6 linked regions of the Homo sapiens genome follow. The protein of the gene in region 2 purifies or fractionates together with the protein of the main gene of each other region. This does not show direct contact. Each region holds a gene or a part of one and is shown on either strand. Other genes may lie near its edges. The genes, in order: SERPINB7, GUCY1A1, ALDH1A3, LCP1, SULT2B1 and PLA2G4D.

Region 1 (4,289 bases), on a different chromosome or scaffold from region 2:
GTTTCAAATTTTGATCAACCTCTAATCAAATTAGTATATTATGCACTTAAAAGAGTTCAATTCTAATCTCAAAATCTAGTATATTCCAACCTATAATGCCTTAAATAAGAACACAGGAAATATAGAATCTAGATTTGCACATAATCCCTACTTATCTCTTCAAAGATGGAACACAAATTTTTCAGCTGGCATCCGATTCCCATGCCATTCTCCCATGACACCACTTAAATCAGTCATAGACAAGCTGTAAGGTGGAGAAGCAGACAAGAGGACCATTATCCGATCTGGATGTTGTGTGATGAGTTTAATGTCTCAGACACAAAGTAACCAAGATTTATTTCTCTCTCTCTCTCTGTGTCTGTGTGTGTGTGTGTGTGTGTGTGTGTGTGTGTGTGTGTGTGTGTGTCTTTTTTCAAAGGATCTGGCCAGACTTTAAATTATGGACTTCAGAAGTATTTACCTTACTGTCTTCATAGAGGAAGTTGGCCGCTGGTTGGGTGAGTCTGAAAGAGTTCTTTGCATTACTCTGAAATATAAAGCCTCTGACTCAGACACTCCCTACTTTTTTTTTTATGATGGCCATGATAGTTTTAAATAATGTCATTAAAATAAATATATTCAGATGCTTTATAGAGCAATTTAAAAGAAGTCTGTAGAATATTAGCTATAGCTCTAATTCAAAGTAGTCAAATAGATATTTTTAATGAATCAAATTTTAGCATGAAATGTTATTTCATTTGATATTTAGTATCACATAGTATTTTTATGTAGTAAATTTAGATATCCTTACATTAAGGCACAACTGGCACTTCTTACATGTGGAAATGTAGTTACTGATTTTTGTTATTGTTTATTTGATTCCTCCCTGCTCTGATTTTGGTATTTGATGAATATGACCGAGCCCCACCTGGAATAATTCATATTCTGACATCTATAAATTCAACTGTCATAGAGGAGTAGCACTGCAGTCCCAGAGAGGTGAAGAAAGCAAAGTGCTATAGAATAGAGTGGGCCTTTTCTCATCCATAAAATAAAAATTCACACCAATTACATTTTCATTAGTACACACACACATATATATATGTGTGTGTTGCTATGTATGTGTATAATCACTAACATGGTATTTATGCTGTATTTGGGGAACATTGTATTTAAGGGAGGCAGGTGAGCTGTCCCTCTCAAGAGAAGTAGGGTTGTACCTCACATAGTGTTTCTGACTTTATCTTACACATTATTTCCCACAAGTGTTTGCCCATACTGCCTTTATTTTCGTTGTATGATTAATGCTAAAATTGAGTATGCTGACTGTTTGAAGCTCTCTAAGGTGAATATGCTATCAGAGAGAGAGATGCGTTAGAATATATTGAACACATGGAGAGGGATATCTACCCCCATCAGAAAAGAAATACATTAGTGATAGGAACTTAGAAACCAAATAAATATCCAAAAAATGAGCAAATTTGATAATTATTAACTCCAGAGAAAGCTTACATTGTGAAAAGTATATCATAGTACACTTTATAGATCAACTGTGGATAAAATTATCATAGTCTTAATGATTTAAACCCCCCAGTCCTTGTTAGACGTCCATTGGGACCCACTTCTTCCCTTTGTCTACCAGAGCTTCTCACAGACCTTGGTTTATCTAGTATACCCAAAAACTATGCTTCATACCAGGACATGGTCTTTCAATTCGCACTATCTTAAGGCACACAAGAAGGTTTCTGACCACAAAACTCTACCCTCATCTTCTCAAGACTGTCTGAAATCACCACAGCAGTAGCCATCAGCTCCCACGCCACTGATAGAAGTAAGGTTTAGAAGGCAAATAAATCAGGCACGAAAGAATACACACAGTAAGATGCCCTTCATGAAAAGATCAAACCAGACAAAACTGTTTTTTAATGGATGCTTACATGGGTGGATAGACTAAGCCACGGATATAACTGCTTTAGTTACCCCTAGTGGGTGGGGAGGTTTTGTTGGTGAAAGAATGGGGAGGGAGGTTTTAGAGGTTCTGGTGATGTTCTATTATTAAATTGTATGCATCTATTGAATTCATCTTTATGTAGCTACATTATATTTCATTATTTTAAAACTCAACAGCAACAACAAAAAAAACATGAAGCCAAATGACCTAATGCCTCTGGGATAGGGTCATGGCGCATTGTGTATAACTGATAATTGATCTATTCCTGATAGCAGGTTTTGATGGACAATGGGCTGGGACACCAAGCCAAGGATACACAGGCATCAGTGAGGTAAAGAATAGGATGCAAAATAAGTCCAAGACTGACTGACATGGCCCAAGGAAGAGACCACGGGTCACAGTGTTCTCTCCAGCAGAATCCAAACCCAAGCACATTTGTGTATGGTGATAAAAGCTGCCCCACCAGAAAAGCATCCCTCCAAGGAGGCGACCTGGAGAGATTTCAGGCCTCTGAGCATGATCATTGGCCATTTACATCTTCCTTGAGATTCGTTAGTGAACTTACCTCTTGCCTACAACAGAAGATAAGAGCAATAATGTAAATCAATAATTGGATAAGCAAATCAACAGTGTACTCACGCTAGCATCTGATACCCAGAAGCAGTGATGGGAATCTGGTCTCCTTTCTCTAGGTGATCTGTTCTCACTCACAAAGAAAATGTTTCCACACTTCTCAAGACTGTTGAGCCCTAGGTATTTTCCCCCATGCACTTAGGAAGGTGATGAAGGAGAGCTTCGAAGGGAGCCTGTTTTACCACTACCTAATGAACCAAAGTCAGCATTTCTAGACAAAAATTTGTTCTAAAATTCTGAGAATTCAGTTTTAAAGGCTGTCCAAAGGTGCAGCCTGCACTCTGCACAGGCAGCTGCTTATTGATGAGTAGACCTGGCTTCTGGGATGGCTTCCCTATGACTCAGAGCACAGCACTGTCTCTCAAGAATCTTATAAGCATTTAGGTTTTGAACCAGGTTTCAAAATAGTATCTGACTAAGGTGGTTGTTATGTAGTTCATTCAGTTTGTATGTGAATCAGATTTCAGGAGGCAATATTCCCATCTCTGTTTCTTATAATGACAATGGTTTTAACATAACCATAAAAACAAATTTCAGAATCAACAGTATCTGTCAGCCTGGGTCAAAACATACTCTTCTGTGAGAAACACACAAATAGACTAACTAGACATCAAATCAACTAAGGCAAGATAGCAGTGACAACAGTGACTTGGTGAGTTTAGGGTGCCATTTTATTGCAACTTGCCACTCATCTTATAGCCTAATTTCTTTCAACCCTATCCTGTGTAAATTTCCCTAGCATAATGACCTAAAATAGAATCTCACACAATGTTTTTTATCATTCTCCAATCTCAGATTTTCATCTGGACCTCTAACCTTTTGAGCTGGCTTCTCTTTGTACTGCTTTCCATCCTTCCCTCTTTTTCTCAATTTTCTCTGGCTTGGAATTTTCCAGAGAAACATTTGCCCTGTTAGTTATTGCAACTGGCTTCTCTAAATGCTTACCTGAACTGAGCAGCTTCAGATAGGAGCTGAAACTTGGTGTGTTCATTCATTCTTGTCATCCTGCCAGCCTCTCCTCCACCCTTCTGATCTGGCAATGGAAAGCCACGTCTGCACCACCCAGATCCTTCCTCCTATAATACAGGCTAGAGTTTGTTAAAGTGGGTTTGCACTTTGAAAAGTGACCAGGTGTAGGGAAAGGTAGGTTGGGCCCAGTTGGTTGCCTACACCTTTGCCATCAGAACATGCCACACAGGGGCAAAAACACATTTCAGTTTCTGGCCGTAGCATCATGAGGTTGAGCTGTATGTTGCACCTACCTTCACCTGCTATGCATGGAAATGACTGCAAGCCTGGTCCTTCTGCCTGAGTGTTTTCAAAAGTACAGCCAACATTTATCCAAGTAACTGGGTTCTCTATTGTAAAAAGCTATTGGAATTAGAAGGTACCATCATCTTACAGTTGCTCGCCTCTCAATTTTGTGCAATTTTGCCTCTTTCCCAGGAAGAAGGGGGTCCTGTTAACTTATCCAAAATCGAATAAAGTAGTTATTGCTCACCTCCATGATTGTTTATGAGTAGAATAATCATAGAGAAAAGTAAAGTTGCAGAAAATCCCTGAAATTTAATTTTGATTTAGCAGTTGTGGTGAACTTTCTGAAGGAGAAGGTTGTTGTTAATATAAAAAAAAAATGAGCCTACAAATGGATTCCCTGTTCTCCATATTCTAATTGCAGTGTTCATAGGCTGAATATTTTGAATCCCATATCCTTTCTATTTCTTAC
Region 2 (3,608 bases):
TTATCGAAAATAAATCTGAAAAAGTCAGATATTGTGATGCTTTTAAAACATACTTGCAAATTATTTTACACTCCTCCTATTGATTCTTGGGCTCTGAGCCCTCTCTCTTCTGGGCAGACTTGTGATTGCTCTGGCTGATAGAGTGCAGTGGAAGTGTTGCGGTGTGTCTTCCAAGACTAAGTCATGCAGCTTCCACCAGTCTTGTTCAGTGGGACATGAACCACCTCATAAAAAATACATATTAGGGCATCACATGTAACGCTAACAATCCCAGCTGAACCCAACCTTTCAGCCATCCCCACCAAGGAATCTGACATGTAAGTGAAGCAGCAGTCTTGGAATGAATCCTCCAGCTTCAATCGTTGCAATCCCAGCTATTCCAGGCACCCTCACCCATTTCGGTATTCCCAGCTGAGGTCCCATAGATTGTAGAGCACAGACGAGGTATTCCTGCTATGACTTATCCAAATTTTTGATGCACAGAATCCACGCATAATAAAAGTTTGTGATTTTATACCATTAAATTTAGAAAAGTATGTTGCACAGAAACATATAAATGGGATGACAATAGACTTAGAAAATAGTTACGAAGGCTTAAACATATGGCTTCTATTAAGGTTAAAGAGAGTTAAGGGTAAATCTCCAAATATAGTTTTGTTTTTAAATTTCTTCTTTCTTCTCTATATGTTTTATAGCATACCGGATAAGATTTTACAATACCTCAAAGGCTTATTTCTGAAGGTAGTCAACTGAGGACTGTCCTATAAAAATTAAGGGGCAGATTCACTGTGAGACAAAGGTAATCTGCTTATATTCTATCTGTTAAACCAATGCCTACCATGTTAACTTTATTTCCTCATGTGTGGTGAGATATTAGTCTGGAATCTGGCTCATCTAGAAATTTTGAAATGTCACGTGCCTTGGAAAATATTGGTGAATTAACAGTCAACATCCATTCAAATGTAATATCCTCTCCTCCAGGGGCTGGAAAACTAAAACTACATTTTCTAAACTAACTTGCAGCTTCTAAATGCAGTTAGGCTTGGTAAATCAGATGCACAGTTGCATGAGATTCGGCAGGCACAATCTCCACTATAACTCAAGAACAATTGTGGAAGCCTTTGTGTTTTCTATAGCATGCTTAGTAGAGAGTCCATTTTCCCATCACTCATTTTGTAAGTCATGATGCAGGATTGCCATCTTGCTGATTATTATAGTAGATGTGGTTTTGAAGAGGCAGCAGCTTTCTGAACATGGCAGTTTCCTGACTGTGGCTTTGGTAGGATAGTTTTGGAATCAGCTTCCAGATTTTTGAAAATGCAGTTGTTCTGAAGTTTGCCTTTAGAAGCCATTTTACTTTGACAATAGAAAATCCCTATACTATGGGAAACATTTTTTGAAAGCCCAACTTATAGATGGGTTCTTCTGTCCTCTCAATGATTCTGTAAGCCATTTAATACCCTATAATAAATTTCTTCCAATGTAAACAAGTTAGAGAAGATTGTGTTCTCTATATAGATTTTGCTTTCTCTCTCTCTCTCAACTAACCCCCAACTGATACACCATGGTTTTGGTAATCAACTATACGCATTTGCTCTTGTGACATCTTTTGGACAATATATCATCTGCCTTACCTTGATAGGTTCTCCATGGGGAGACATAACTTCATCAGAGAGCTCCATCATCTTCAGGGCCATCAGCGCTATCTGAACAGCATGAGTATCACTCTCTTTGTGTAATCCCCCAGCTACACAATAGGCATCGCCAATGGTCTCCACCTAGACATAATATATTTTCCATACTATAAATAAATGCTCAGGAAGAATCACAGCCTACATCGGATAGAAGAAATTAAGTCATATAGCAGAATTCTCATTGCTCAGGCCTTCTGGAGGATCAGGGTTAATCAGATACGCCCAGAAATGGCTTTCTTTTTCAGGAAATGCGCAAGGTTTAGACCCATTACATTGAGGCACTGCACTGAGAGGCAGTACAGTCCTATGAACACAGTAACAGTTGACTTCTACTCCCAGATTTGCACACTGACTCATCATATCATTTCATCTCTTTTTTTTCACCATATAAGATAGTTTTTGTAGAAACAATATATTTTTGAATTATAATAAATTGTTTAAAGATGTTGGGATCATTTACTCGTTTTATATCCTCCTCATCATAAAATAGTATTTTGCCTCAAGTCACTACTCAATAAATGTCACATCAATGCAGTAAAATTGTGCAATGTAAAACCAAGATATTAATAGTCATAAGAGTAAAGAGAAACGGTTCTTCTAAAGGACCCTTGGGGTCCTCATAGCAATTACATATCTAATGGATACTAATCACAATTATAAAAACCAAGATGTTGAACCAGCAGGTAAAAACAACGGTGGTGTTTGAAAGACCACTGGAAATCAAGCTATTATCAAAAATCTAAGTATTAACCTTATCATTATCATCATCATTATTGTTGTCGTTACAGGCAATTTTTATCTGTCTGTGATGCTGGCTGCAAAAAGCAGATAGTTAATTTTAGTCCAGAAATAACCCCCTAATTCTAAGAGCTTCATTTTTCTTCTTCTCCAAATGTTTATTGTAACTATAAGACCCTATTATTCTTACACAAAGCCTCAATTGTGAAAGGATGAGGGTGAGAAAGGAAAAAAGAAAGGAGGCACAAATCTTCAGAAATTCCCCTCAGAGTAGATGCTGATACCCTTATTATGGCTCCAGATTTCTTCTTTACCTGTCTTTCTCCTAATCTCTGACTTTATCTTCTTATTCTCCATATTGCTCACTTAGTTCCAATGTCACTGCCTTCCATTATCCTTTAAGCACATCAAACATGCTCCCACTTGCTATTCCTTTCTCCTGGAGCAATCTCTCTGCAGATAACCACGTGGTTGTCCCTCCTTTCCTTCAGTCCCTGCTAAAACCTCACCTTATTAGAAAAGCTGATTCCTACCACCCTCTAAGAAATAGCAATCACCCCTTACCCACTGCCCTTCTTCTTCCCCTTAACCTACTTTATTTTTCTTTCACATTATTATACTGACTTAAATACTATAAATTTACTCATTTGTTTATTGTCTTTGTTTCCCCTAATCATATGTAAGCCCTTTGAGTTTATCTAGTTTATTGACTCCTACATTACCTGTGCCCAGTAATGAATGAACCAGGTGGCAATGCCACCCATAAGCTTTTTCTCAGCAATGAGTACATAAGAAGTGCTCATCATGATGGCCATCACAGGTGCTCAATAAATAGGCTAATTAGAAGAAGTCCTACACCCACCCCTACCTGATGTTAGGGGCCTACCATATCTGCTTTTGCAGCCCTTTGTGCATACTGCATCCCTTCGTCACGTCATATGGAAATCTGGCATTGGTCCATTGTGCCCTCTTCTCCCTCTCCATATGTGAACTTTCCTCACAGGGATTGTACCCTCTAGCTCTGTAGCCACTGCGCACCCATGCTGGCAAATGCTGGATAACCAGTACATATTCGCTGAAACAATGGGTAAATGAACACACAGAGAAACAGAAAAATGGCCAAAAACCCAAGAAAGACAGAGAGAAAATAAAATTAAATAAAGCCCTAGTATAATC
Region 3 (3,608 bases), on a different chromosome or scaffold from region 2:
GATGGAAGGAAGCACTGAGACAGGGCTTGGTATATAATATACAATGTAAACAATGAGAAACTCTCAGTTAATAGAAGAATAATGAACTTAGCAAGAAGCAACTCAGGAGAGCTGAAATACACACACAGTCAACTCACCAGACCGTTCCAGACTCTAAGGCAGAAGCCAACTTCAGGGCTTTGTCGAGATTTTTTGTGAACACGGCTGCTGTGAGTCCATAGTCGGTGCTATTCGCTCTTTTTATCACTTCTTCGATACTTTTGAACTTCAGTATTGGTTGCACTGGCCCGAAAATCTATGATTAATTGCAAGAATGGCAATGAGAGGCATGACTGAATGGAAATGCATGCTGTGAACAAGCATTTCCTTCTCTTTACATGTTTTTCATATGCCCAGAGCACACACATGCCTGAAAAACGATGATTAGAGAAGAAAGAACGTCCAAACATTGCTTCAGCTGCATTGCCATTGGAGACTGAAGGGAAGGATTAACATGAAACAAAAATAAAAAATAATAACAAAAAATATATGTTGTGTTTAAGATGTCTTGTTGTCATCAGGGTTTCCGAGAAACCCAGCCAGAGAGCCTTGGAGTAACCCATAGATGCACAGAACACAAAACCTTTAGGTAACTTTTTTCGGAGTTGTCCTGAAGGATATCTGCAGGCACTTTGTAAGACTGTGCTCCTACCTCTTGGAGCTGTGTTTTCTACCAAGGAAGACACCCTAGAACGTTTCCATAATAACTACCAGGGGAAGGAATGACACAATATTCACCACAGTTTGTGACACAGCAAAGAAAAGGAAATGGAAGAACTAAGGCTTGAACATTTAAAGGTGATTTTGAAGGGAGCTTGTAATTGATTCAATATTAGACATAATTATAAGCCGGCAGGATGGTGCCTGGCCTGCCAAAATACCTTCCGGGTTCCCCAGGACCTCTCGTCACAGGGATGTTTAAGGAGCTGAGCTTCATGCCATCACGGCACATAACAATCTCAAGGAAGACGCCTCTGAAATACCTGCCCCAGAAAGCCCTTGGCAGGGACTCATCCTTTTATGTGCCCCAAAATACCACCTCCAGGGTCTAACCTCCTGGGATCCAGCTCTCCTCTTACAAATGCTGTGTGGGAACCAGTTCCCGTCTAGTGTAACAGTGGAGTTGAAAGAGAAAGATTTACACTCTTATGGGAGTGGGGGAGTCTCCTTAATTTCCCTCATTTTCAAGACGTCCGTGGTGGAAAATGTCAATAAAAATTCCAGCTGTGACATGTTCCTTGAGTGAACACTTGAAATTCAGTCTAGGGGCACTGAAGGCGGCTTTGGGCCCTGAATCCACAGGTTCTTGAACTGATTCCTGGCAAAACCCACAGGTGGCAACAGTTCTCCACCTGCGGCTGCATGACTGACTCGGGGACCGGTTGTGTTAGAAAATCAGAGAGGGCTTGCTGCTCCCAGAGAGGGTGAGCCATGAGTGAAAACTAGCTAGAACAAACAAGGTACCTGCTGTATCATGCTTGGAGTTCGCCAGAGGCAGGACAAAACGGCTTCCCTAGGGACCCCAAAGGAGAGGGGAAAGACCACACAGAAAAAACAACAACGACAACAACAGCAACAAAAACAAAAAAACACTCAGATCACAAGGATTTCTGGGATCCCTGGGCCCTAGGGAAGGACTCGTGTTTGAAAGGCCCCGCAAGTCGTAGCCTTGCCACAGCCCCCTTGTACCTCCTCTTTGGCAATCCGCATGTTGTCTGTGACTTCTGAGAAGACAGTGGGTTTGATGAAGAGCCCCTTGTCTTCCATGGCTGAGCCCCCGCATTCCAGCTTGGCCCCTTCCTTCTTCCCACTCTCGATCAGCTCTAAGATTTTGTCGAACTGCTTTTGATCAATCTGCAAGACACAAACAAGAAGTACAGCCTGGCTTCCTTCTGGGCAGTGGCTGCCATCTCATGTTTTCAGTGGCCTTCAACATGATCAGCCATCCTCCCTCTGCATGTTCTTGTCAAGCCATGATCCATGTAACTAATGAGCCTTGCAGGCAAATATTCCTCTGATGCACAGAGCTGGGCTCTTTGGAGCAGGGGAGAGATGGGGAGATAGACTAGTCTCATCCTCTGGAGGTTTGGGACATATTTACACTTCTATCTCCCTTTTCCATGCAGCAAAGTTAGTCCATGAGTGACACAGGTCTGAAGTGGTCACAGTCTTTCTTCTCCCAACTCTTTACATTCTACTCAGGTTGCCAAATTTAGCAAATAAAAATACGGGATGCCCAGTGAATCTGAATTTCAGAAAAATGACACATAATTTTTTTTAGTATGTCCCAAAACAATATTTGGGATATACTTAAGCTAAAAGTGCATTTACTGTTTATCTGAAATTCATGTTTACCTGGGTGCCATGTATCACCTGGCAACCCTGTGCCCTGCTCAGTTGGCACCGTGAATCAGGGTAATAGTTACTGGAATTCTCCTGTCATGGTGCAGAGAAGCGAGAAGAAAAGCTAACCACCTTACTCAACACCCCTGGGGACAAAGCAGAATGAGCCTCCAGGTGGGGTGGCAGGGCTGCTCCTTGGTTGGTGGTGGGAACAGCTCATGAGAAAGACTCTCCCTTTTGCTATCTTGTCTAGACGTCTCCTTGGCTGGAGTTTGCCCTGTGCCACCAGCCTGACCCACAGCTTGTGAACACGCTACTGAGCAGTTGTCAAAAGCGCACCCTTTTGGGAGACTGCTCAAGAGGGAAAATGCTCTTTCTGCCCCCTCCACTGGTCCTTCTTCCTGAAATCTATGGGAATCTTGTCCTTTATCATGATCTGTGGCTGGTCTCCCTCCTCTTTGGCTGGGAGAGACAAAGCTTTACTAGGTTTACTTTAGCTGGGATTTTTAGATGGGAAAACTGGTTTCATTCCAATGATCATAAACAGAAAAAGAAGCAAACCCAGTGGTGCAATTGGATGACGGTCTGTCCTGGAGGAGCAGGAGAGAGGGCATAAACCGTGCATGCCACTTGACCAATCATCTCATGAAATATGGACCCAGTTTAAAAATACTAACTCAGATCCATACCTCACACTTTATACCAGGCCAAACTCCAAACCCAGTTTAAAAATACTGACTCAGATCCATACCTCACACCTTATACCAGGCCAAACTCCAAACCCAGTTTAAAAATACTAACTCAGATCCATACCTCACACCTTATACCAGGCCAAACTCCAAACCCAGTTTAAAAATACTAACTCAGATCCATACCTCACACTTTATACCAGGCCAAACTCCAAATAGATCAAAGATATAACCAGGAAAAACAAAACCATAAAAGTTTTATATGTGGGAGACTTATCCTGCAAACTTGGAGTGCCTTCTAATGACTCAAAATGCAGAAGCCAAAAAAGAAAAGATGTATAATTTTGAGTATGTAAAAAAAATGGGGTGGGGGCAAAATTATCATAACAAAGAGCAAAACAACAAACTTGGAAAAAATATTAACAAGTCATATTCATAGAAAGCTAATCTCTCTACTATGTATGTAAAGAGGTCTTAGAAGTGATAAGAAAAATGCCTAACAGCTTGCAAGAAAAATACGCAAAGCACATTTGATAA
Region 4 (3,608 bases), on a different chromosome or scaffold from region 2:
CTTTGCTGCTCAGAAATGTATCCCTTTATCCCTGAAGTATGACAAGTCACCAGCCCAAAGCCTGGGTTTTGCGAATGATGTCTGAGCCCCTGAAAAAGGCGGACTCAGCAGTTATGATGCTCATTGATGCCAAACAAATCCTGTATTATGGTAACGGTGGGAAGACATACCTGAATGGTGAAAGGGGTTAGCTTCTTTTTGTTGATTGTTCTTTCATCAATTGTGTCTGGCACTGACAGGTTGATCATTTTACTGAAAGAGAAACAATTAAATTAAAGAAAGCAGTCTTCTGAATAACAGAGCCCAGTAACGTTGAATTTAAATTCTAGCAATACCATAATCAAAGAAGATAGCAACAGAATCTGTGATGTTTAGATATAAAATCAGTTATGCCGTTTGACTAGACTCAAACTATCTGCGGGAAAGGTGAATACTACTGAAGCCACATTCATATATTGAGGTTGGAAATGAGGACCCCACTTCATTCTCCCACCTAAACAGCTGCAAAATTATCCTGATTTTCTTAGCACATTAGGAAATTCTGGGTGGATAACCAAAGTAATTCTACCATAAGTACTTTATTTTCTTAGCCATGAAAATTGTCCCCATTATATAAAAGACTGTCTACAAAATTCTGAGCTTATTATTGTCTACATTTCTATTTGACACAGGACCAAACTTTGTATCTTCAGCTAATCATATGATAACATTTTTATATCCTTCTCAGTGCCCTAGGCTGAGTACCAATGAGTCACAGGGGTCTTAGAAGGTAAAACTAGCAGATTGGGGGAAGACCATGGGGTGCCTTGGGTGGCAACCTAAAAGCTAGAATTTTGATTTTTTTATAGCAATTGAACCTTTTAAAAATGAATTCTCAGGACAAACTAATAAATAAAATATCAAAAGTAGAATTGCTCTGGTCAGAGCAGAGGAGAAAGCTCAATGTCTTTCCCACCCATTGTTATCCTTTAAGTCCTGAGTCCCTCACATATTGAGCACCTCAAGTCACTTCACTTACAACTTGGCCTGTGATGACAGAGAACCTGCTGAAGCAAGAGCTACAGAGGTATTTTCAAAGACACCACGTTGCATTGAGCAGCACCATATTTAGAGGCCTCCCGTGGGTAGGATGCAGTCCCCCTTTTCCAGGTGTCCTCAATGTTTGAGTTGTGGATTTCTGTGCATCACTCAAAGGTTTCTTTGCTTAAGGACTACAGTTTAAGGACTTCTTCCATCATCCTGCTGCTATTATCAATTCTATCTGCTTTCATGGTGAGCCACGCTCAGATGAAGCCAAGCAGCATATATTCCAAAAATATATAACCAGGAAAATTGTCCTCATTATAGAAGAGACTATCTATGTACTTCTGAGCTTACATAATGTCTACATTTCCGCTTGATGCCTGATCCAACTTTATACTTTAAACTTGTCATCAGATAAACTTTTTAATGTCCTTCTATAGTCATTATTTAATCAGTATTTTATAAGTTTCCCCCACTTAATTATCTAATACATTGATTAGACATCTAATGCTTTTGACTTGGTATAACTATATCTTCCATGTTTATCTCTATAATGTTTATCCCTCCTCTCCACTCAAGCAATAGCAATTTTACATTTCTCATTATAAATTGTTTTTGAATTTAGTTTGCTGTCCTGGACCTGGCCAAGTGAAAGTCCAGAAAAGCCTTCTAGGTGCAGCTGAGCACCAAACAAAGTTGGCCTACGATAAATAACGATTAATTGTTGATGGTCTAGAAAATGGGCAATTCTTTGGAAACCAAGAAAGAAGTATTATTTACCAAAGGACAATGCCATCTCCAACAGCATTAAAGAGATCATTCGTGTTTGGGTTCATTGGGATGACATGCCGACAATCAGGATCATTTTCCAGGGCTTTGTTTATCCAGTTGACAAAGGCATACTTTTCTTCCTCTGCAAGTAAATGATTAAAGTGACTCATTTGCAAAGTGAAACTCTATTATAAACAAAATTATGCATGTGGATCTTAAATTCTCATTCCCAGCAGAGAGATGTGAGTTTATTCAGTCCATTATCTTATCATCTCATATTTATTAAGATTTAAAAATCTCAGATCACTTGGGAAATAGGCATTGAGTCTGTGTACTCCAAGTCATAAAACATAGAGCAAACAGATTTAAAAACTATCTCTCTGTTTCTTTTCTTTTCTTTTTTTTTTTTTTGAGATGGAGTCTCACAGTGTCACCCAGGCTGGAGTGCAGTGGCGCGATCTCGGCTCACTGCAAGCTCTGCCTCCTGGTTCACGCCATTCTCCTGCCTCAGCCTCCCCCGTAGCTGGGACTACAGGCGCCCGCCACAACACCCAGCTAATTTTTTGTATTTTTAGTAGAGACGGGGTTTCATCGTGTTAGCCAGGATGGTCTCGATTTCCTGACCTCGTGATCTGCCCACCTCAGCCTCCCAAAGTGCTGGGATTGCAGGTGTGAGCCACCGCGCCCGGCCAAAACTATCTCTCTGTTCCTATATATACGCATAATCCAGATATATATTTACATTTAGAAGCAAATATATACATATGTTTATTTTCTATATATAAATACATAAATAATAAAAATATTTTATTTATATGTGCATGTATACATATATATATACACATATAAATACAAATGTGGTATAATGCTTACAGGACAAAACTCAGGATTCCGCTTTTAGCTCTGCTGGTTTAAATGTTGGATCACTGTGGACAATCCTTATTGTACCTCTGAGTTTCTTGATACAATTATAATTAAATTGCTATAAAATAAAATCATTTGGATATAATCTTTTTTTCCTAACAGTAAAGCTGCCAGAAGGTGATTTTTAGATGTTTTAATAAAAACTCAAGTTATGTCTTCACAGCCTAGCACTATGTTTCCCAAACTGACAGTTTTTGAAAACAGTAGTGTCCCTCAGAGAAATCCTGAGTCATAAAAGTTTGGGAAATACTGTGTAGTGAATGTATCTCCGCCTTAAAGATTCACATTGCACATTTGACCCAGCAAAGGTTCTGAAAATTCCTGTATTTAAAAACAAAAGGCCAAACGTTGTCTTAGCAACTATAGATGGTATTTAATCATGACTTATCTTTTTTTTTTTTTTTTTTTTTTTTGAGACAGAGTCTTGTTCTGTCGCCAGGCTGGAGTGCAATGGTGCAATCTCGGCTCACTGCAACCTCTGCCTCCTGGGCTCAAGCGATTCTCCTGTCTCAGCTTCCCGAGTCGATGAGATTACAGGCATGCGCCACTGCACCCAGTAGAACGGGGTTTCACCATGTTGCCCAGGCTAGTCTTTAACTCCTGACCTCAGGTGATCCACCCGCCTTGGCCTCCCAAAGTGCTGGGATTACACGCGTGAGCCACTGTGCCCGGCCTCATGAGTTTATCTTTAAGATCAACTAACGTTTTGAATAATTCAGTTTTGGAAATGTTGCAACAACTATACTGTTTGGCCTGTTGGAAGTTTCCATTATGGCTGTTGGATGGCAGCCTTCGGAATAAATTTACAAATTTATTCCAAATCAATGAAAACATAATTTTTTGATCACTTAGCAGGTGTTAAAAATTATCATGAAGTTTAAAGATAGAAG
Region 5 (3,608 bases), on a different chromosome or scaffold from region 2:
CGTCTCTACTGAAAATACAAAAAATTAGCTGGGCATGGTGGTGGGCGCCTGTAATCCCAGCTATTTGGGAGGCTGAGGCAAGAGAATCGCTTGAACCCTGGAGGCAGAGGGGCAGAGGTTGCAGTGAGCCAAGATCGTGCCATTGCACTCCAGCCTGGGCAACAAGAGGGAAACTCTGTCTCAAAAAAAGAAAAAAGAAAGAAAAAGAAAAAAGAAAAGAAACAAGGTCTTGTTCTGTCCTTGAGGCTGGAGTGCCTGTGGCACAATCATGGCTCACTGCAGCCTGAAACTCCCAGGCTCAAGTGATCTTCCTACCTCAGCCTCCCAAGTAGCTGGGACTACAGGTGTATGCCACTACACGTGACGAATTTTTAAACTTTTTTGTAGAGATGGGTGTTTCTAAGTTGCCCAGCTGGTCTTGAACTCCTGGGCTCAATCAACTGCTCACCTTGGCCTCTGAAAGTGCTGGGATTTCAGGCGTGAGCCACCGCGCCCGGCCCCCTTGCCTGATTTTCACGTTTGCTTTCATTGTAATTGACTATAACCCGGGAGTCCAGCAGCTTTGCTGAACACTATGAGTTTTGCTAAGTCGTTGAGCCTGAGGGTGGTCTTGGGGACTTCCTGATTGCAGCCCCCCCTCTCTGCTCTGTCCACGCTCAATTCCTTGGCGATATCACCCAGTCCTGGAGCTTCGATTAATTACAGAATATATGTGCCAAGGAATTGCAAATGGACGTGTCAGCCCAAGTCTCTCCCCTCAGATCCCGATGGGTGCATTTCTGTGCCCACCGGCAGCCTCTGCTGGACGTGGGATGGGCCGCCGCAGAGCCCGTGTCTTCCTCCCCCGCCTGCTCCCCTCCCTCCTCCCCTTCCCAGTTGCCCCACCCTGACAGTTGCTTCCGCCGAAACCTTGGAGTCACCCTTGACTCATCCCCTTCTCTCACACCCACATCCAGTCTGTCAGCAAATCCTCCCGGTCTCACCTTCAAAATACCTCCGTGACCATCACCCTAGTCCAGCCACCGTCCCCTCCCCTGGACCCCGGCCAGCGCCGCCTCTCGGGCTTCCCGGCTTCTGCTCTCTCGACAGTCGGTCCCCATCTGACCGCCAGAGGGCGCCGGTGAAGCCTAAGCCCGCTCGGGCTCCTCCTCTGCTGCGATCCCTGCCGCGCTGCCTCGTCACTCGGTCAGAGCTCAAGTCCGCACCGGGCCCACGCGGCCCTGCACATTTTGGCCCCTGTTGCCTCCCCACCCGGACCTCATCTCCACTCCTTTCCCCACTTGCTCACTTGGCTCCGGCCACACCGACCTCCCTCTTGCACCTCAGATACACCCACCTCAGGGCCTTTGCACCTGCTTTTCCCTCTTGCCTGAAATGCTCTTCCTCTAGAAACCTCTGTGGCTCCCACCATCACCTCCCGGGTTTTTACTCACTGGGGGCCCCCTTGACCTCCTTATTTATAATTGCAGCCCCACACCCACCTCTAACTCTATCTCCAGCCCTCTCCCCCCAATGTAAATTTATCCCATCAGACATTTTATGTATTATATTATATTGCATTATGTTATTATATGTTAAACATATAAATATTAAATATAATTAAAGTATATTGTAATACTATTAAATTATTATAATATGTAGTATAATATATGGGGGTTTTTTTTTTGAGACGGAGTTTTGCTTTTGTTGCCCAGGCTGGAGTGCAATGGCGCGATCTCGGCTCACCACAACCTCCGCCTCCTGGGTTCAAGCGATTCTCCTGCCTCAGCCTCCCAAGTAGCTGGGATTACAGGCATGTGCCACCACGCCCAGCTAACTTTGTATTTTTAGTAGAGACAGGTTTTCTCCATGTTGGTCAGGATGGTCTCAAACTCCTGACCTCAGGTGATCTGCCCACCTTGGCTTCCCAAAGTGCTGGGAGTACAAACGTGAGCCACTGCGCCTGGCTGTAATTTTTTTTTTTTTTTTTGAGATGAAATCTTGGTCTGTCTCCCAGGCTGGAGTGCAGTGGTGCCATCTCAGCTCACTGCAACCTCCACCTCCCAGGTTCCAGCAATTCTCCTGCCTTAGCCTCCTGAGTAGCTGGGATTACAGGCACCCACCACCAGATCCGACTAATTTTTGTATTTTTAGTAGAGACATGGTTTCACCATGTTGGCCAAGCTGGTATTGAACTCCTGGCCTCAAGTGATCTGCCTGCCTCTGCCTCCCAAAGTGCTGGGATTACAGGCGTGAGCCACCATGCCAGCACCGGCTTTTTTTTTTTTTTTTTTTTTTTTTTTTTTTTTGAGACAGTCTTGCCCTGTTGCCTAGGATGGAGTGCAGTAAGGTGATTTCAGCTCAGTGCAGCCTTGACCTGCTGGGCTCAAGTGATCCTCCCACCTCAGCATTCCAAGTAGCTGGGACTACAAGTGTGTGCCACCACGTCTGACTGATTTTTAAAATTTCTTGTAATGATGTGGTCTGACTATGTTGCCCAAGCTGGTCTCAAACTCCTGGCCCAAAGTGATCCTCCCGCCTCAGCCTCCCAAAGTGCTGGGACTACAGGCATGAGCCATCACTCCCTGCCAAAGGGCAGGCATTTCTGTGTGTATATTGACCACTGTGCTAGATCAGAGTCAGGCACATAGTAGGTGTTTAACAAATAGGTGCTGAATGAATCAATGAGTTATGCTCCGTCCCCCCATTACCCCATACACCCATGCAGCCCCTCCCAACTGACACACACCCCTCCTCCCAACCTTGGCCTTGGAGCTGAAGAAGGCCTTGGTGAAGATCTGGATGGGAAGATGGGAGCTCATGAGGCGGGGGCTGTACTGGTCCGGGAGGCTGAAGGCACCCACAATGGTCTCACACCAGGGTGCCCGCTCCCAGATGGGCACGGAGCGGATCCAGGATGGATCCCCTTCCTTCAGGATTAAGCAGATGATCTCGATCATCCAGGTCGTGCCTGTTGGGAGAAATCGAGCAGATTAATTGGGTGTGGGAGGGCTGAAGAGGGAGATATCATCAGAATAATCACAACAGCACTTATTGAGCAATTTGCCACCTTTTATTATTTTTTTTTAAGACAGAGTCTTACTCTGTTGCCCACGCTGGAGTGCAATGGCGCGATCTCGGCTCACTGCAACCTCCACCTCCCAGGCTCAAGCAATTCTCCTGCCTCAGCCTCAGCCGAGTAGCTAGCATTACAAGCGCCCACCACCACGCCTGGCTAATTTTGTATTTTTAGTAGAGACGAGGTCTCCCCATGTTGGCCAGGCTGGTCTCGAACTCCTGACCTCAGGTGCTCTGCCCACCTCGGCCTCCCAAACTGCTGGGATTACAGCTGTGAGCCACCACGCCCTGCCTGACAGCATTTATTGAGCAATTTACCACCTATTTTATCACACTGATTCCTTACAGCTGGCAGAGAAGGCAAGGTTGCTTAACCTCATTTTCGGAGCCAGAAACTGAGCCTTACAGAAACCATGTCGCTCGTCCAAGGGGACAAAGCTAGGAAAGTGGTGCAGGGCAGAGACTGGTGAGCTGTCCACCCAACCCCATTTCATTTTTCTGCTGGGAATATGGCGTGATGACCTTTTCTCTTCTCCCCTGCTGCTATGTGT
Region 6 (3,608 bases), on a different chromosome or scaffold from region 2:
TTCCCACCTAAGGACCCTGGCAGGAGCCAGCAGATCAAGGCCTGACACCTCTCCTTCCCTTCGGGACCCCGGCGGTGTGGGGCAGGGGCTCAGTGGCCCTGCTGCTCGCCTCTGGAGCTTGGCCTGGCTGGGCAGAGGGGTTCCCCTGGGGTGACCAGGGTACCTCGAAGGGCGCAGATAGGGAGTAGTCGAAGGAGAGGATGAGGTCCAGCCTGCGGCCTGGCCGGAACATGGAGGGAGAGCTGGTGTTGATGAAGTAGGCGGCGTCCACCAGGCAGAGCCGGGGCTCCTTGGGGGTCAGCTGGCTGGGCATGGAGTCAAGCTGGTAGTCTGGTGGGAATCGCAGGATGGTCAGAGGCCACCACCCTGCCACAGGTCATCCATGTCCCCTTCTCTCCTCTGGGTCACTCCTTAAATGCCACCCAGCCCTTCCCCAGGACCTTCCAAGGGGATCGTCTCCAGGCCACACCCCAGAAGTGGATGCTGACCTCCTAGGCCTCAGCCAGTCCCTGCCACACCACCCAGAGGCCCAACCTTGTGACCTAGGGACCCCTGGCCACGGCCCTGACCTGCCCAGGTGGAGAAGTCTTTGTGGCTACAGTAGTCCTGGTGCAGCTGGAGGCCCTGGAGGAAGTTGGGGCTGCGCTGGTGGAGGGGCCTGCCTGTCAGGAAGCCTTTAAATGCCTGGGCCAGCGCCGTGCCTGGCTGCAGCCACGAGGCCTCCAGCCGCGAGGAGGTCCCCGAGGTGGTCAGGGGCTCCTTCTCTGAAGCCAGAGAAACAGAAATTGGTCCCTTCTTCCCCTTACTTCTTCCCCTCAGACACCGCACACCGCAAGCATTCTAAAGGAACAGCGTCATCCCAGGCCCCTCAGTGCCCCTGCCCTTCCCACCTAAGCTCCTGGTCTTGTCCTTGATGTGCTGTTTCCAGGACTCCCCAGAACTGGTGAGGTCATACCAGGCATCCAGCAGGTTCAGGGAGAAAATGTTGCTCCAGATGGCTGAGGAACACCAAAAGAGATCAGCCTCAGGCCCCAGCCAGCGGCCCCACCCTCAGGTACTGATGGAAAATGGGAGTGGGGCGAGGGCTACCCCTACAATGCATCCCCCCCGCCACCCCTCCCCCTTGTCCTGAGGTTCTGCCCCACCTGAGCTACAGGACCCATGTCCATTCAGACACCTGGCCCAGGGCTGCCCAGGGCCTTCAGAGCCACCACCCTCACCTTCCAGAAAGCAGATCCGGGGCTCCGGGATCCTCCTCATCAGCCGTCCCATGAAGAACTCGGAGCCGAAGAGCTCAGGAGGGACGAAGGCCCCGTACTTCAGGAAACCGACCTCATAGGGGGAGAACTCAACCCACTCTAATGGGGTGGGAAGGAGAGGCAGGAGTGTGAGGGGAGTGGATTGCGGGAGTCCCCAGCTCTGGCGAAAGACACTGCCCCTGCCCCCAGCAGGCCTGAGCCCTGCTGTGCCTGGCACCAATGCAGCAGATGTGAGGAATGGGCAGTCCTGGACTGACCACACCCCTCCCAGCCCTTGGTCCACACCCTCAAGCACTACCCACTCTCAAGCACAGAGAGATGCCCTGAGCCCCTCAGCACCACTGCCCTTCCGGAACATTGGGCAATCTGTGCGGAGCTTCCAGCATGAATTCTCTGGGGGCTGTCGGGGTGCAGAGGGTTTGGGGGGTGGAGTATGTGGGAGGGGAGTAGGTAGAACTGTACCCTTGAAGTCCAGTGTCTCCAGATTGTTCTCTTTGACATTGAGGCTCAAGTAGAGGGGCAGAGGGTTCTGACCCCGTTCCAGGGCGGCTCTCTGTCCTGACAGCTTCTGATCCATCACCTGGGGCCAGAGGGCATCAGGGCCTAAGTGAGGCTGGGAGTACCCTGGAGGCAGTGGCTCCGCCAGGACAGGGGCAGGATGGGGGACCTGGCTGGGGGTGAGGAGGCAGCTCCTCCCGTGGGGTCTGGGGACCATATGTGGGTCAGTTCCCACTCCTGCCCCTGTGTTCTGAACAGCCCTAGATGCAGGGTCGCTGGACAGGGCATGCAGGCTGTGTACTATGAATCTCCAGCGAGGGCCATTCATAGGGACCACAATGCCAGCGGTGCTTCCAGGCCCATCTTCGTGGATTTAAGGGTGAAGTGGGTGTGGATACTGACACACAGACACAAGGACACATGCACACATCCACGTATTGCTTTGTAGAAAGGATGCAGCAATGCCCTTTTAGCATATACTGCAACCTATGCCAGGGGATGGACTGCCCCCTCTTCTAGGTTCACCTTAATGCAGTTCAAGTTTCAGCTCCTCCCGAATGCTTTCCTGACATCCTTGCCTCCCCCTCATCGTCCCTCTTCTTTCTTGCTTTGCATAACATGAGGTTGTACCCCATTGATTATTCTTGCCTTCTGTTCTTAATTTCCTCCTCAATAGAGCTCCAAGCTCTGCCTTTGTTTTATTTTATTTTGAGACAGGGTCTCACTCTGTCACCCAGGCTGGAGTGCAGTGGTGCAATCTTGGATCACTGCAACCTCCACCTCCCAGGCCCAAGTGATCCTCCCACCTCAGCCTCCCGAGTAGAGTAGCTGGGACTACAAGTTACACTTGGCTAATTTTTGCATGTTTTGTAGAGATGGAGTTACATCATGTTGCCCAGGCTGGTCTCAAATTCCTGAGCTCAAGCAATCCACCTGCCTTGGCGTCCCAAAGTGCTGGGATTACAGGCGTGAGGCACCATGCCTGGCCCAAGCTCTTTGATGGCAACGACTATAGCTTGCCTTTTGGGGGAGCCTCCACAGAGCCTCCCTGAATTGTAAGGGAACAGAAAGGCCTCATTCTATGCTGAGCTAGAATTGCAAATAGAGCTCTTCCCAAGCACCAGCAAGGCGAATGGTGGTGCCTGCCTGGAGCACCACCTTGGGAAGGATTCTGCCGCCAGAGCTGAGGTTGATGCTGTCAGCCCTGGGCTGTTTCTACTGGGCAGTATGTGTACCATGAATACGTCATCCTTCCTTTGGGCTCTCCAAGATGGAAGAGTGTCTAGTTCTAGAGGCTCCCAACCTGCCGCAGCAGCCCTTATCATCAGAGTGACTCAGTGAATGTGTACACGTGAGAGCATGTGAAGCATGCGGACTTCTGGGTCTCCCCTGAGAATCAGCCTGTCAGAAGTCACTTTGGAGTTTGCCTTTTAAAAACCCTCAGATGATCCTGATGCCCAGCCAGGTGTGAGGATTCCTACCCAGCCTACCCAAGGAGGGTCCCTCTCCCACATCCATGGCGAAACTCAACACACCCAGTGTGTGTGTCCTCCTTGCTGGCAGCTCTTCTGTCCCTGACGAGAACACTCATGTGTCAACCACAGTCATCCTTCCACCCCATTTTCCAATGGTCCCCAGTATGAATTACAGGGAATTTGCAGGAAATCTCTAAATAGGGCTCGATCCCCTGCCACTGATGGTGGTGGTGTACGTACGAGTCAGTCCTTAGGTACAAATGTGTGTACGTGACCCCTTCTCAAAATCTTTTTATTTAGAAACTCTGTTGCTCTTTTGATACATATGACTAGGGAAAATGTGTCCTTTTACTATAGTTGCACAATTTATGCCCTA

The links.
Region 1: the proteins of GUCY1A1 (region 2) and SERPINB7 purify together in Homo sapiens (affinity purification with mass spectrometry; one large-scale study listed by BioGRID and IntAct). This does not show direct contact.
Region 3: the proteins of GUCY1A1 (region 2) and ALDH1A3 purify together in Homo sapiens (affinity purification with mass spectrometry; one large-scale study listed by BioGRID and IntAct). This does not show direct contact.
Region 4: the proteins of GUCY1A1 (region 2) and LCP1 purify together in Homo sapiens (affinity purification with mass spectrometry; one large-scale study listed by BioGRID and IntAct). This does not show direct contact.
Region 5: the proteins of GUCY1A1 (region 2) and SULT2B1 purify together in Homo sapiens (affinity purification with mass spectrometry; one large-scale study listed by BioGRID and IntAct). This does not show direct contact.
Region 6: the proteins of GUCY1A1 (region 2) and PLA2G4D purify together in Homo sapiens (affinity purification with mass spectrometry; one large-scale study listed by BioGRID and IntAct). This does not show direct contact.

What each region holds. Positions count from the first base shown.
Region 1 is NC_000018.10:63,773,997-63,778,285, reverse strand, and holds the start of SERPINB7 (serpin B7), read right to left. Parts: upstream 2,869-4,289; 5' UTR 2,570-2,868; intron 506-2,569; exon of another isoform or gene 461-505; intron 1-460. UniProt on the Homo sapiens protein: Might function as an inhibitor of Lys-specific proteases. Might influence the maturation of megakaryocytes via its action as a serpin.
Region 2 is NC_000004.12:155,715,329-155,718,936, reverse strand, and holds part of GUCY1A1 (guanylate cyclase soluble subunit alpha-1), read right to left. Parts: intron 1,779-3,608; coding exon 1,635-1,778; intron 1-1,634.
Region 3 is NC_000015.10:100,903,808-100,907,415, reverse strand, and holds part of ALDH1A3 (retinaldehyde dehydrogenase 3), read right to left. Parts: intron 1,894-3,608; coding exon 1,729-1,893; intron 296-1,728; coding exon 138-295; intron 1-137. UniProt on the Homo sapiens protein: Catalyzes the NAD-dependent oxidation of aldehyde substrates, such as all-trans-retinal and all-trans-13,14-dihydroretinal, to their corresponding carboxylic acids, all-trans-retinoate and all-trans-13,14-dihydroretinoate, respectively.
Region 4 is NC_000013.11:46,154,635-46,158,242, forward strand, and holds part of LCP1 (plastin-2), read right to left. Parts: intron 1,937-3,608; coding exon 1,804-1,936; intron 253-1,803; coding exon 171-252; intron 1-170.
Region 5 is NC_000019.10:48,586,571-48,590,178, reverse strand, and holds part of SULT2B1 (sulfotransferase 2B1), read right to left. Parts: intron 2,951-3,608; coding exon 2,742-2,950; intron 1-2,741. UniProt on the Homo sapiens protein: Sulfotransferase that utilizes 3'-phospho-5'-adenylyl sulfate (PAPS) as sulfonate donor to catalyze the sulfate conjugation. Responsible for the sulfation of cholesterol.
Region 6 is NC_000015.10:42,070,554-42,074,161, forward strand, and holds part of PLA2G4D (cytosolic phospholipase A2 delta), read right to left. Parts: intron 1,840-3,608; coding exon 1,722-1,839; intron 1,359-1,721; coding exon 1,221-1,358; intron 999-1,220; coding exon 891-998; intron 765-890; coding exon 570-764; intron 331-569; coding exon 164-330; intron 1-163. UniProt on the Homo sapiens protein: Calcium-dependent phospholipase A2 that selectively hydrolyzes glycerophospholipids in the sn-2 position. Has a preference for linoleic acid at the sn-2 position.